Linked DNA regions of Homo sapiens: all the other regions are reported to be linked to region 1. The links are microRNA targets in miRTarBase. Many come from high-throughput screens and were not tested one by one. Region 1 holds a microRNA gene; each other region holds the end of a gene's coding sequence.
Evidence for each region. Region 1 holds the annotated microRNA hsa-miR-1911-3p (CACCAGGCAUUGUGGUCUCC, at 931-950, shown strand). A microRNA usually pairs through its seed, bases 2 to 8, with sites in the 3' UTR of a target mRNA and lowers its output. Matches are read on the target gene's strand: a 7mer-m8 pairs with bases 2 to 8, a 7mer-A1 pairs with bases 2 to 7 and ends in A, and an 8mer does both.

Region 1 (3,151 bases):
CCATCATATTTTCCACTGTCATCCCTGGGGATTTTCAAGGATTCCATCAAAAGTTACTCACTGGAGTCCAAGTTGTCCTAAATGTTCTCAAAACATATACAGTTTATGAAAATAAACATGCAATAAATAAAATCTCCCTGATTTCTTCGAATTGGTTAATGAATAGCAGAAGACAATCTTCTCATATATATTAATACCTCCAAAATTTGTATAACTAGAGGTCATTCTCAAAGTGAAACAATTTTCTTGTGTGTATAAAGGTGGTACCATATCCCTAGATAGATGGCATATTAAGCCCTAGGGTATTGGAACATATTGTTATAGTGGCTCTTTGGCTGAATTTTGCCTGCAGATAAATTTTGTTTTGGCCTAGCCAACAATTTTTAAACTTTATCATTTGAATACATTTTAAGAGTGAGTTCCAACTTTGCTATCTTTTCTACCACTCCCCATCTTCTTATACCCAGCTGTCCTACCCACTGATATTACCTACCTGGTCCCTAAAAGTGTTTACATTTGTGATGGGCATCACAGCTGTGAGCACAGAAGAAATAGCTTTCATGTTGATACTCCACATTCACCCCTGTGCTAACAAAGGTCCTCTAGCCCTCTAGAAAAAGTACACTCATTTTCCCCTAAGTACTTCTAGAAGTCACCAGTGGTTCTCTCGTGTGATCATGAGCAAATCAATTTTCATCATGCACTGCTGCAATTATTCTGGGCTTTCATGGAGCACACATGTATCCACCATCACCCGTCATCATTCATAGTATCTGCTGGGCATTCATCATCTACCACTGGGCATCCATCATCTCCCATTTGGCATTCATCATCTCCCACTGGGCATCCATCATCTGCCACTGGGTATCCATCATCATTTGCTCGGCATCTGCTGAGTACCGCCATGTCTGTTGGGCATCCACAGTCTCCCACCAGGCATTGTGGTCTCCGCTGACGCTTTGCCATTTCGCCACCGGTGCCTTCCATGAGAATGCTGGTTACTTCTCCAGAGTGCTGTCACCCGGGGCTGCCAAATCTACAAACCCTCAAGATACCAGGTGTGCTGCATTTGCGTCAGTATTCATTGTACTTAGCTGTGTTCCTTGCATAAATTAGGAAAATGCCCCTTTATAACTGTGGCACATTTTGTTATCTAAACATTGAAAAAGCAATACTTGTCCCTGTCCCCTTCACAAAGTCCCTCTGTAAAACAGCTATCTCTGTTTTATCTTTCTTTGTTACTTATGGTTATCATCCACAGGGCTTACATATTCCACAGGGCTGATCTTGAGTCTATACACTGATGCCTTAATTCCTGTCCTCAGGCATTCACCCAAAAAACATCCCTCTGAAAAGCTTAGCAGGTAACTTGTCAGCCTTGTGTACTTGTATATACCTAGCATCTACTCCTATATCTGGTCTTTTTCTTTTTAATGGATAGATGAAGGCCTCCTTCCTCTTTGCAAATCAGTTCATGAGGTGATATTCTTGGAAATTCCCAGGCCCACATATCTTCACCTGTGAATCATTACTTTGGGTTTGAAATGTCTTCTCCCAATATCACTTTTCCCTTTAACAATATCCTTAATCACTTCACTGCGGGATCTTTATCCTAGAGAAAAAAATTTCTTTACCGGGTAAGTTTCCATTCTAAATACAAAAAGAATAATGGTATCAGTATATTTAAATTATAATGACATATGTGGAAGAATACAGTCCAGAGGTCCTGATTTTTGTTCTTATATCTAGAGTCTTCTACCTCTGGTTATCCTTTGCTGTTTCTCTCTTCTATCCTCCTTAGAAATGTACAACTTTGGCTGGGTGCGGTGGCTCATGCCTGTAACCCCAACCCTTTGGGAGGCCGAGGCGGGCAGATCACCTGAGGTTGGGAGTTCGAGACCAGCCTGACCAACATGAAGAAACCCTGTCTTTACTAAAAGTACAAAACTAGCTGGGTGTGGTGGCGCATGCCTGTAATCCCAGCTACTCAGGAGGCTGAGGCAGGAGAATCTCTTGAACCCAGGAGGTGGAGGTTGCGATGAGCCGAGATCGCACCATTGCACTCCAGCCTGAGGGCAACAAGAGTGAAACTCCATCTCAAAAAAAAAAAAAAAAAAGTAAAAGAAATGTACAACTTTTACATATTAATTACTGGTTTAATTCCCCAATAAATGCACAAAATAAATAAATAATGTAATTGTAGTTAACATTCCAGTTCTGGTTGCAAAAATAATTTCACTACAGGCAGATAGGCAGCACTGTCAAAGCTAAATAACAACGGCCAACACTTGAGTTTTTGCTCAGGGCCAGACATTGTTCCAAGTATTATACATGTACTATCCCTATTTAATACATAAAGAAAACAATGCACCAAAAGTTTAAATGCTATCAGTATTCTACTGCCAACAATGGGACGCACCTCCTACGTTTTCTTCCTTAAGAGGAGACATCCTCTGTCTTCTCAAGAAAGATTAGAATTCCCTCTGTAGTGTCCAGTTCTGGTGATTTGAAGATTCTCCTCATTTTCCTTTTTCTTCTTAAATCTCACTCCTTCATGGAATCAATCTTTCTTTCTTTCTTTCTTTCTTTCTTTCTTTCTTTCTTTCTTTCTTTCTTTCTTTCTTTTCCTTCCTTCCTTCCTTCCTTCCTTCTATCTTTCTTCCTTCCTTTCTTCCTTCCCTCCATTCATCCCTTCCGTCCTTCTCTCTCTCTTTCTTTCTTTCTTTTTTCTTTCTTTCTTTTTTTTTCTTTCCTTTCTTTTGACAGAGTTTCACTGTGTTACCCAGGCTAGTTGTGAACTCCTGGGCTACAACAATCTACCCACCTCAGGTTAACAAAATGCTGAGAATACAATCATGAGCCACCATGCCCAGCCTTGGAAACTTTCAGTGATTTTTATATTGTCTGCTAATGTGCCAATTCCTAGAGAGCTAAGTTCTCAGTCCTTACTTCATGAACTTTTCCCTCAAAGCCTGTATGTCTATGCCAAGAGCCTTTTAACTGGGTTGAATGATGGTGGTGAAGGAAGCTATTATAACAAGTACTATAATAGCTAACTTTAATTGAACACTTACTCTGTCCATTTATCTTATTCAATCCACACAACCAACATATAAGTATTTTTCCCACTTTACAGATGAGGGAAATTGAG
Region 2 (3,000 bases), not on the chromosome of region 1:
TTTTTATAGAAGAGGAAGATGCTTAGTACCTTCAAAACATTATTGAATTATTACATATATAATTTGTTAACTACGTACAATTATCATAAAATTAATTTTTGCTTTTTGTTTTCTTGCCAATAATAGACGTCTTCCATGTATGCACCTTTTCCACCAAGTGTGTGTTGACCAATGGTTGATTACCAATAAGAAGTGCCCCATATGCAGAGTGGACATTGAGGCCCAGCTGCCAAGTGAAAGTTGACACCATGTTTCAGAACTCTTGCCCTCCCTCTCATTCCCATCCTTCCTGGTACTGCAGTCAACCAAAGATGGCATGACTTACCTGCGCAGATTTGGAAGCATTGAACTTAGAGTGCTGGCTCTGCTATATGGTACAACTAATGCTAGACCTACAGTTTATGTATACAGTTGATTTTGATGTATTTATAAAAGCTTTTTTTTCTAGATTTGACATTTTTCTGTATCATTTTACTGTATTTTTGCATGGTTCCTTGTATTGCATTTCTTTGCACATATTATGGGCTTGTGACCCTAAACTTGCAGGCAAGGTTAGCTGCTTTAGTAAGTAGAATTTTGTGGTCTTTTTGTTTTTTACATAGTACCAAGCCTTGATAATTATGAATTTTTTATCCATTACTAACCTTTAATTTAATCAATCATGTACTTTAGTTTAATGTATAAAGATCCTCTAGAAAATGATAATATTGTGTATTAAGACATTCCTTAATTAGGACAAAATGGCTGCTGTATATTTACTATATGGAGTTCTGAGTTAAATACCATCCTTAATACTGGGAACAGAATACAACCCATATAAATCAGATGCAGGTGGTAGTCACATCACCAGAGTGATCAGTATAAATTTTCTTGGTGTATCCTTTTCCTTTCAACACAGTGCAGATAAGAGTTGAATATTGATATCATACATTTAGACTGCTGTTCTGATTGCATTTATCTTTTTCCTACATCATTTAGAATTTTATTTCCCTGATTCAGTTTTTGCTGCTGTGAAACAGCTCTGATGAACACTAAATATTAATTTCAATTAGCTAGATTGTACATACTTGCAGATTTAACAAAATTTTAGGGAAATTGAAAAAGACATGTAGAATTTGTTGTCTTCTGCTAAGCACGAAAAGTTAAGATATCTGCTTACATTGATTTTGTAGACACATTAAGTCAAGATTTGGAATTTAAGTCACTGGCAGGTATCTGTGCATTCATAGAACTTATAAAGGTCCCAGGATCACTTTTAAGGGATTTTTATTAGTTTAAAGGTAAATAAAGTCAGCTGAATCTACATGTCTCTTGTTTTATTTCTCTCTAAACTTGAAAACAGTAAATCTGCAGATACTGTGAGGCACAAATTATACTGTCAACCTACTGTTGCTATGGTTATATACTCCCACTTCATACATTACCAAGAGTCGATCACTGATTTAAAATTTTTAATTTCTATAGTTAAGATTTACTGCATAATATAGAATATAAAGTTAAGTTAACATACTAACATTTCTCCTTTGGAGGAAGTTTTAATCTACTTCAGGATGCATATTATTATCAAGATACTTTCATATACAGGATAGCCTAATTTTATTTGTTTAAATATGCTTAATATGCCCCAGATTGCAAATGCATCCAGTCAGTAATATCACTGTCTGTATGTGGAGGACATGTTCCCATGGATCATATGTGAAGATGTCAATAAGCTTGCATTAAGCCACCTGCTTTGTAAGTGGATTGATTAATAAATAACTTATATTTCTATTGTCTTTGTGTTTCATAATTAGTTTTTATAAAAACAGTTTACATTAAACATCTTGGAATTCAACAATAGTGATCTCACTCAAATTGACATTTGCATAATTTGACATTTATATTCATTCAGTTATGACTACTTGCCCTTTTCTTCATATTAGTAAATGTTACACTGTAGTAGTTGTCAATGTTAACAGGCTTCAACATAGTATGTGTGCAGATGGACGATGGATTTAAAGAGCATACCTTATGATTAAACCGAGGTTATAGAAGGTCAGGGGAGAGTGAAGGAGTCAGTGACCTATGTCTGCCATCTTACTGGGGAAAAGAGCAAGTAGCCTGTCTTCCTTTAAGTAAGTAGCCTGTAATGGATGTACTACTTTGCCACTGGAATACCCCGGGTCTGTGCCAAGGGACTGAAGAAGTGTAAGATGGGGAGAACTGTATGTCATGGAGTCCTCTTGACGTTCCCCCAGATACAAGTAAAGCACAGGTGGATTTCTCTATTTTTGAATACTACATCAGATTTAGATGCACGACTACCTGTTGACTTGTTTTATAATTGCTACTGATTTTTTTAATGTAGGCAAAGCTTTGTTACTTTGAAATTTATTTAATAAAAGTATTTGTGACATAAACCTGAATTGTTAATATAGGAGCTTATTAAGCTACTGCCATTAGTTATCGAAAAATGTGATAAGTAATGAAGAAAGTAAGGAAGAAAATGACTTTGAACATTTTGACTTTTTGTGCTTTGTTTTGGTGTCTTCCATATCCTGCTGCATCTTATATGTCAAAATGAACATTTCAGTGGTAGCTGTCCAAATACATAAAAACTAAAATTCTTTTGTTAGCAAGTCCTTATTTTTATTGTTGTTAACATGCAAGTGATAAACTGATAATTTGAAACATTTTTCTTACTCTGGTGACTTTCTTTTAGCTGCTAGCACACTTCAGCATTTGAACCATAACAGTTGTGATAAACTGATCGTTTGAAACGTTTTTCTTACTCTGGTGACTTTCTTTTAGCTGCTAGCACACTTCAGCATTTGAACCATAACAGTTGTGATAAACTGATCATTTGAAACGTTTTTCTTACTCTGGTGACTTTATTTTAGCTGCTAGCACACTTCAGCATTTGAACCATAACAGTTGACTTAGAGAAAACTACTTTTGTTTTAAAAACTGTTACTTGTTCACGCCTGTAATCCCAGCACTTTGGGAGGCTGAGGTGGGCAG
Region 3 (3,000 bases), not on the chromosome of region 1:
CCAGCCCCTCCACCCAGAGCCTGCTGGCCTCTGGCCATCTCAGAGGAGCAGCAGCCATCCAGCACTGCCTTTGTCACCTGGGCTCCCAAGTCACCGAGGCTGGGCACTAGAAAAGGTCATCCTGAGGAGACAGGTTCAGAAGAGGATTCATCACGTGAACCAAGGACCATTCCTCACATTCCCCGTGTTTAGGGCTAGGGCCTCTCGGAGACAACTGCACTTCTGTAACGGACGTTCCCACCTAGGTGGTGTGCAGAGCAGTTCTCTAGGTTCCAGATGCATGGGGACTGGGGGGAGCTGGCAGGGAGGGCACAGCAGAGCAGGGTAGGGGAAGGGCCTGCTCTTCTGAAGAGCTAACTGCTGCCTGTGTCCCTAGATGGAACGCTGAGCTTATCCTGTGTGGCCTGCAGCCGCTTCCCCAACTTCAGCATCCTCTACTGGCTGGGCAATGGTTCCTTCATTGAGCACCTCCCAGGCCGACTGTGGGAGGGGAGCACCAGGTGAGGGTCGCAGCAGCCAGGTGGGTGGGAAGGAGGCCTTCTGCGGCCTTCTCATGACCTTTCCTTCCCTTCCGCTCCAGCCGGGAACGTGGGAGCACAGGTACGCAGCTGTGCAAGGCCTTGGTGCTGGAGCAGCTGACCCCTGCCCTGCACAGCACCAACTTCTCCTGTGTGCTCGTGGACCCTGAACAGGTTGTCCAGCGTCACGTCGTCCTGGCCCAGCTCTGGGTGAGGAGCCCAAGGAGAGGCCTCCAGGAACAGGAGGAGCTCTGCTTCCATATGTGGGGAGGAAAGGGTGGGCTCTGCCAGAGCAGCCTGTGAACTAATGCCCAGCATTCCTCAAGGTCAGCCAGACAAAAAGGAACTTAGGTCTTGGGCAGAGGAGGTGTAGCCTGGGGCAAAGTGATGAGATGTCCCTCCTTTCCTTGGCCTGATCCTTGTCTGCCTTCACTTCCCTAGGCTGGGCTGAGGGCAACCTTGCCCCCCACCCAAGAAGCCCTGCCCTCCAGCCACAGCAGTCCACAGCAGCAGGGTTAAGACTCAGCACAGGGCCAGCAGCAGCACAACCTTGACCAGAGCTTGGGTCCTACCTGTCTACCTGGAGTGAACAGTCCCTGACTGCCTGTAGGCTGCGTGGATGCGCAACACACCCCCTCCTTCTCTGCTTTGGGTCCCTTCTCTCACCAAATTCAAACTCCATTCCCACCTACCTAGAAAATCACAGCCTCCTTATAATGCCTCCTCCTCCTGCCATTCTCTCTCCACCTATCCATTAGCCTTCCTAACGTCCTACTCCTCACACTGCTCTACTGCTCAGAAACCACCAAGACTGTTGATGCCTTAGCCTTGCACTCCAGGGCCCTACCTGCATTTCCCACATGACTTTCTGGAAGCCTCCCAACTATTCTTGCTTTTCCCAGACAGCTCCCACTCCCATGTCTCTGCTCATTTAGTCCCGTCTTCCTCACCGCCCCAGCAGGGGAACGCTCAAGCCTGGTTGAAATGCTGCCTCTTCAGTGAAGTCATCCTCTTTCAGCTCTGGCCGCATTCTGCAGACTTCCTATCTTCGTGCTGTATGTTTTTTTTTTCCCCCTTCACTCTAATGGACTGTTCCAGGGAAGGGATGGGGGCAGCAGCTGCTTCGGATCCACACTGTATCTGTGTCATCCCCACATGGGTCCTCATAAAGGATTATTCAATGGAGGCATCCTGACATCTGTTCATTTAGGCTTCAGTTCCACTCCCAGGAACTTTGCCTGTCCCACGAGGGAGTATGGGAGAGAGGGACTGCCACACAGAAGCTGAAGACAACACCTGCTTCAGGGGAACACAGGCGCTTGAAAAAGAAAAGAGAGAACAGCCCATAATGCTCCCCGGGAGCAGAGGCCACTAATGGAGAGTGGGAAGAGCCTGGAAAGATGTGGCCTCAGGAAAAGGGATGAGAGAAAGGAGGTGGTATGGAAGACTCAGCAGGAACAAGGTAGGCTTCAAAGAGCCTATATTCCTCTTTTTCCCACACCGATCAAGTCAACTCAGTACTCACGGGAGAAAAATAGACTTTATTTACAAGTAATAACATTTAGAAAAGATCCATCCCCGGCCCTTAAAAACCTTCCCATCACTCCAAATCCCACCCCAGTGCAAGTCTGGGGAAGGTAGGGTGTGAGCTGCTGCTGAAGGCTGTCCCCCAACCCCACTCCTGAGACATAGGGCCCATCCGTCCTGGGAAAGAGCATCCTCTGGCAGGTGCTCCCACCAGGTCAGACCCAGTCCTGGACTTCAAGAGTGAGGGCCCCTGCTGGGCCCAGCCACCAGGACAGCAGGAACCAGGGCCTACTCCTCTTATGGTCCCTTCTAGATCCAGAGGCTAAGAGGAAGACTGGCCAGGCCCAAGGACCCAGCCATCAAAACCAGCCTCAAATCTGGTTGTGATGGAGAAGTGACTTTGCTTTAAGAAAAAAGGAGGCAAGGTAGGGAGAGCGCCCACACTGTCCATGCTCCAGGCCCCCTGGGCCAGCTCCGAGAAGGCGCCAGTGAAGGACCAGGGACCAGGCCAGGGTGCGGGCAGGCATCACTGTCTCTAGGGGTTTGGCTACTGTTGGCCTGGGAGCTGAGAGAAGGCACTGAGAGGGACAGTAGGCGGAGGACCAGGTGAGGTCAGCATCGGGGACACAGGTGGGGCCACTCACTGGTACTGGCCCTTTAGTGCTTTGCCTGAAAGAGACACAGTCACATGGCCAGATGAGAACTTGCGATACTAGCCTGCACCCACTGGCTGGGAAGATCTCTTCCTGCTCCCACGCCCCTGTCTGGATCCCCTCCCTTGTGAGCCCCAGGGTTATCAGTTGCTGGCTGTGCCTGAGCAGCTCTGGGTGCTCTCCATGAGAATGGGGCCATCTGTCTTCTCTCCTTGGAGAGGAGCTACCAGGACAGGGACACCTCTTACCCCACACCCTCCAGCAGCCTGGCGTGGCCCCATCTTGGATGCTACTTGGTGGGG
Region 4 (3,000 bases), not on the chromosome of region 1:
CAGGTGACAAAGGGGACCCAGGCCCAATGGGCCTGCCAGGGTACATGGGCAGGGAGGGTCCCCAAGGGGAGCCTGGCCCTCAGGGCAGCAAGGGTGACAAGGGGGAGATGGGCAGCCCCGGCGCCCCGTGCCAGAAGCGCTTCTTCGCCTTCTCAGTGGGCCGCAAGACGGCCCTGCACAGCGGCGAGGACTTCCAGACGCTGCTCTTCGAAAGGGTCTTTGTGAACCTTGATGGGTGCTTTGACATGGCGACCGGCCAGTTTGCTGCTCCCCTGCGTGGCATCTACTTCTTCAGCCTCAATGTGCACAGCTGGAATTACAAGGAGACGTACGTGCACATTATGCATAACCAGAAAGAGGCTGTCATCCTGTACGCGCAGCCCAGCGAGCGCAGCATCATGCAGAGCCAGAGTGTGATGCTGGACCTGGCCTACGGGGACCGCGTCTGGGTGCGGCTCTTCAAGCGCCAGCGCGAGAACGCCATCTACAGCAACGACTTCGACACCTACATCACCTTCAGCGGCCACCTCATCAAGGCCGAGGACGACTGAGGGCCTCTGGGCCACCCTCCCGGCTGGAGAGCTCAGGTGCTGGTCCCGTCCCCTGCAGGGCTCAGTTTGCACTGCTGTGAAGCAGGAAGGCCAGGGAGGTCCCCGGGGACCTGGCATTCTGGGGAGACCCTGCTTCTATCTTGGCTGCCATCATCCCTCCCAGCCTATTTCTGCTCCTCTCTTCTCTCTTGGACCTATTTTAAGAAGCTTGCTAACCTAAATATTCTAGAACTTTCCCAGCCTCGTAGCCCAGCACTTCTCAAACTTGGAAATGCATGCGAATCACCCGGGGTTCGTGTTAAATGCAGATTCTGACTCAGCAGGTCTGAGTGGGTCCAGGATTCTGTGTTTCTCATATGTTCCTGGGTGATGCTGATGGGGTCAGTCTATGAACCACACTGGAGCAACCAGGTTCTAGGACTTTCTCAATATTCTAGTACTTTCTGAACATTCTGGAATCCTCCCCACATTCTAGAATTCTCCCAACATTTTTTTTTCTTGAGACAGAGTCTTGCTCTGTTGCCCAGGCTAGAGTGCAGTGGTGCAATCTCAGTTCACTGCAACCTCTGCCTCCCGGGTTCAAGCGATTCTTCTGCCTCAGCCTCCCTAGTGGCTGGGATTACAGGCGCCTGCTACCATGCCTGGCTAATTTTTGTATTTTTAGTAGAGATGGGGTTTCACCATATTGGCCAGGCTGGTCTTGAACTCCTGACTTCAGGTGACCCACCCGCCTCGGCCTCTCAAAATGCTGGGATTACAGGTGTGAGCCACCGTGCCTGGCCAATTCCAACATTCTTAAATTCTCTCATCCCTCCAGGGCTCCCCGTGCTATGTTCTCTTTACCCCTTCCCCCTCTTCTCTTGCTCAGGCCTGCACCACTGCAGCCACCGTTCATTTATTCATTCATTAAACACTGAGCACTCACTCTGTGCTGGGTCCCGGGAAGGGTGAGGGGGTCAGACACAGGCCCTGCCCCTGCCCTCAGTGACTGGCCAGTCCAGCCCAGGCGGGGAGAGATGTGTACATAGGTTTTAAAGCAGACCCAGAGCTCATGGGGGCCTGTGTTCTGGGTGTTCAGGTGCTGCTGGTCCTCCATTACCCACTGCTCCCCAAGGCTGGTGGGACGGGGTCCCGGTGGCAGGGGCAGGTATCTCCTTCCCGTTCCTCATCCACCTGCCCAGTGCTCATCGTTACAGCAAACCCCAGGGGGCCTTGGCCAGGTCAAGGGTTCTGTGAGGAGAGGACCCAGGAGTGTGGGGGCATTTGGGGGGTGAAGTGGCCCCCGAAGAATGGAACCCACACCCATAGCTCTCCCCACAGCTGATACGGCATCCTGCGAGAAGACCTGCCCTCCTCACTGGGATCCCCTTCCTGCCTCCTCCCAGGGCTCTGCCAGGGCCTTGCTCAGTCCCTTCCACCAAAGTCATCTGAACTTCCGTTTCCCCAGGGCCTCCAGCTGCCCTCAGACACTGATGTCTGTCCCCAGGTGCTCTCTGCCCCTCATGCCCCTCTCACCGGCCCAGTGCCCCGACTCTCCAGGCTTTATCAAGGTGCTAAGGCCCGGGTGGGCAGCTCCTCGTCTCAGAGCCCTCCTCCGGCCTGGTGCTGCCTTTACAAACACCTGCAGGAGAAGGGCCACGGAAGCCCCAGGCTTTAGAGCCCTCAGCAGGTCTGGGGAGCTAGAGCAAAGGAGGGACCTCAGGCCTTCCGTTTCTTCTTCCAGGGTGGGGTGGCCTGGTGTTCCCCTAGCCTTCCAAACCCAGGTGGCCTGCCCTTCTCCCCAGAGGGAGGCGGCCTCCGCCCATTGGTGCTCATGCAGACTCTGGGGCTGAGGTGCCCCGGGGGGTGATCTCTGGTGCTCACAGCCGAGGAGCCGTGGCTCCATGGCCAGATGACGGAAACAGGGTCTGACCAAGTGCCAGGAAGACCTGTGCTATAAACCACCCTGCCTGATCCTGCCCCTGCCTGACCCCGCCACGCCCTGCCGTCCAGCATGATTAAAGAATGCTGTCTCCTCTTGGCGATTCAGACTGGTTCTTTCTGCTCGGCTCCCTCTGCCCACTCTGCGTGCTCCCTGCCCACAAAGAAGCGAGCCCCCAGGTCACTCACGCAGCTGGCGCGCCTTGGAGCTAGTGGCACCAGCATAGAGTCAGCCGTGTCACTCTTTGGTTGTGACCTCGGGCAAGTCCCCATATCTCTGCGCCTCGGTTTCCTGTCTGTAAAATGGGGACAATGGTAATCTACCTCATGCGGTGGACATAAGGATCAGATGCCAGGTTGCTTGATGAGTGCCGCGTTCATGCTCAGCATCTGCTGAGCGCCAACTGTGTGGCGCAGAGCTGAGCACCTGTGCCGTTTATGCTCCAGTGAGGCACACGCAAGCCCCCCCACCTCCCGCCCCGGGGACCCTGTCGCATGTTTTGCGTTTAATTATGATGAGAGAACTGTT

Region 2: miRTarBase lists RNF111 as a target of hsa-miR-1911-3p. Seed matches in the 3' UTR shown: 7mer-A1 at 289-295.
Region 3: the mRNA of NUMA1 is a reported target of hsa-miR-1911-3p. Seed matches in the 3' UTR shown: 7mer-m8 at 2,548-2,554.
Region 4: miRTarBase lists C1QTNF6 as a target of hsa-miR-1911-3p. Seed matches in the 3' UTR shown: 7mer-m8 at 2,149-2,155 and 7mer-m8 at 2,284-2,290.

The regions. Positions count from the first base shown.
Region 1 is chrX:114,762,302-114,765,452 of GRCh38, forward strand. MIR1911 (microRNA 1911) reads left to right here and starts at 883; the gene lies at 883-962. The region is part of intron 4 of HTR2C (5-hydroxytryptamine receptor 2C); the gene reads left to right. All of the region lies in intron 3 of LOC105373313 (a long non-coding RNA gene), which reads right to left.
Region 2 is chr15:59,094,657-59,097,656 of GRCh38, forward strand. It overlaps RNF111 (ring finger protein 111), which reads left to right. Exons shown (of 14, transcript NM_017610.8): 14 at 127-2,763. The coding sequence ends at 244. Among named protein-coding and RNA genes, the nearest start is that of CCNB2, 9.0 kb to the right of the region's middle.
Region 3 is chr11:72,000,825-72,003,824 of GRCh38, forward strand. NUMA1 (nuclear mitotic apparatus protein 1) reads right to left here. Exons shown (of 27, transcript NM_006185.4): 27 at 2,040-2,714. The coding sequence ends at 2,703. It overlaps IL18BP (interleukin 18 binding protein), which reads left to right. Exons shown (of 6, transcript NM_001039660.2): 4 at 377-500; 5 at 581-728; 6 at 960-1,980. The coding sequence ends at 1,037. Among named protein-coding and RNA genes, the nearest start is that of IL18BP, 3.4 kb to the left of the region's middle.
Region 4 is chr22:37,179,739-37,182,738 of GRCh38, reverse strand. It overlaps C1QTNF6 (C1q and TNF related 6), which reads left to right. Exons shown (of 3, transcript NM_031910.4): 3 at 4-2,573. The coding sequence ends at 551. IL2RB-AS1 (IL2RB and C1QTNF6 antisense RNA 1) reads right to left here. Exons shown (of 2, transcript NR_199008.1): 2 at 1-310. Among named protein-coding and RNA genes, the nearest start is that of C1QTNF6, 7.0 kb to the left of the region's middle. RefSeq lists enhancers at 1,393-2,252, 2,253-3,000.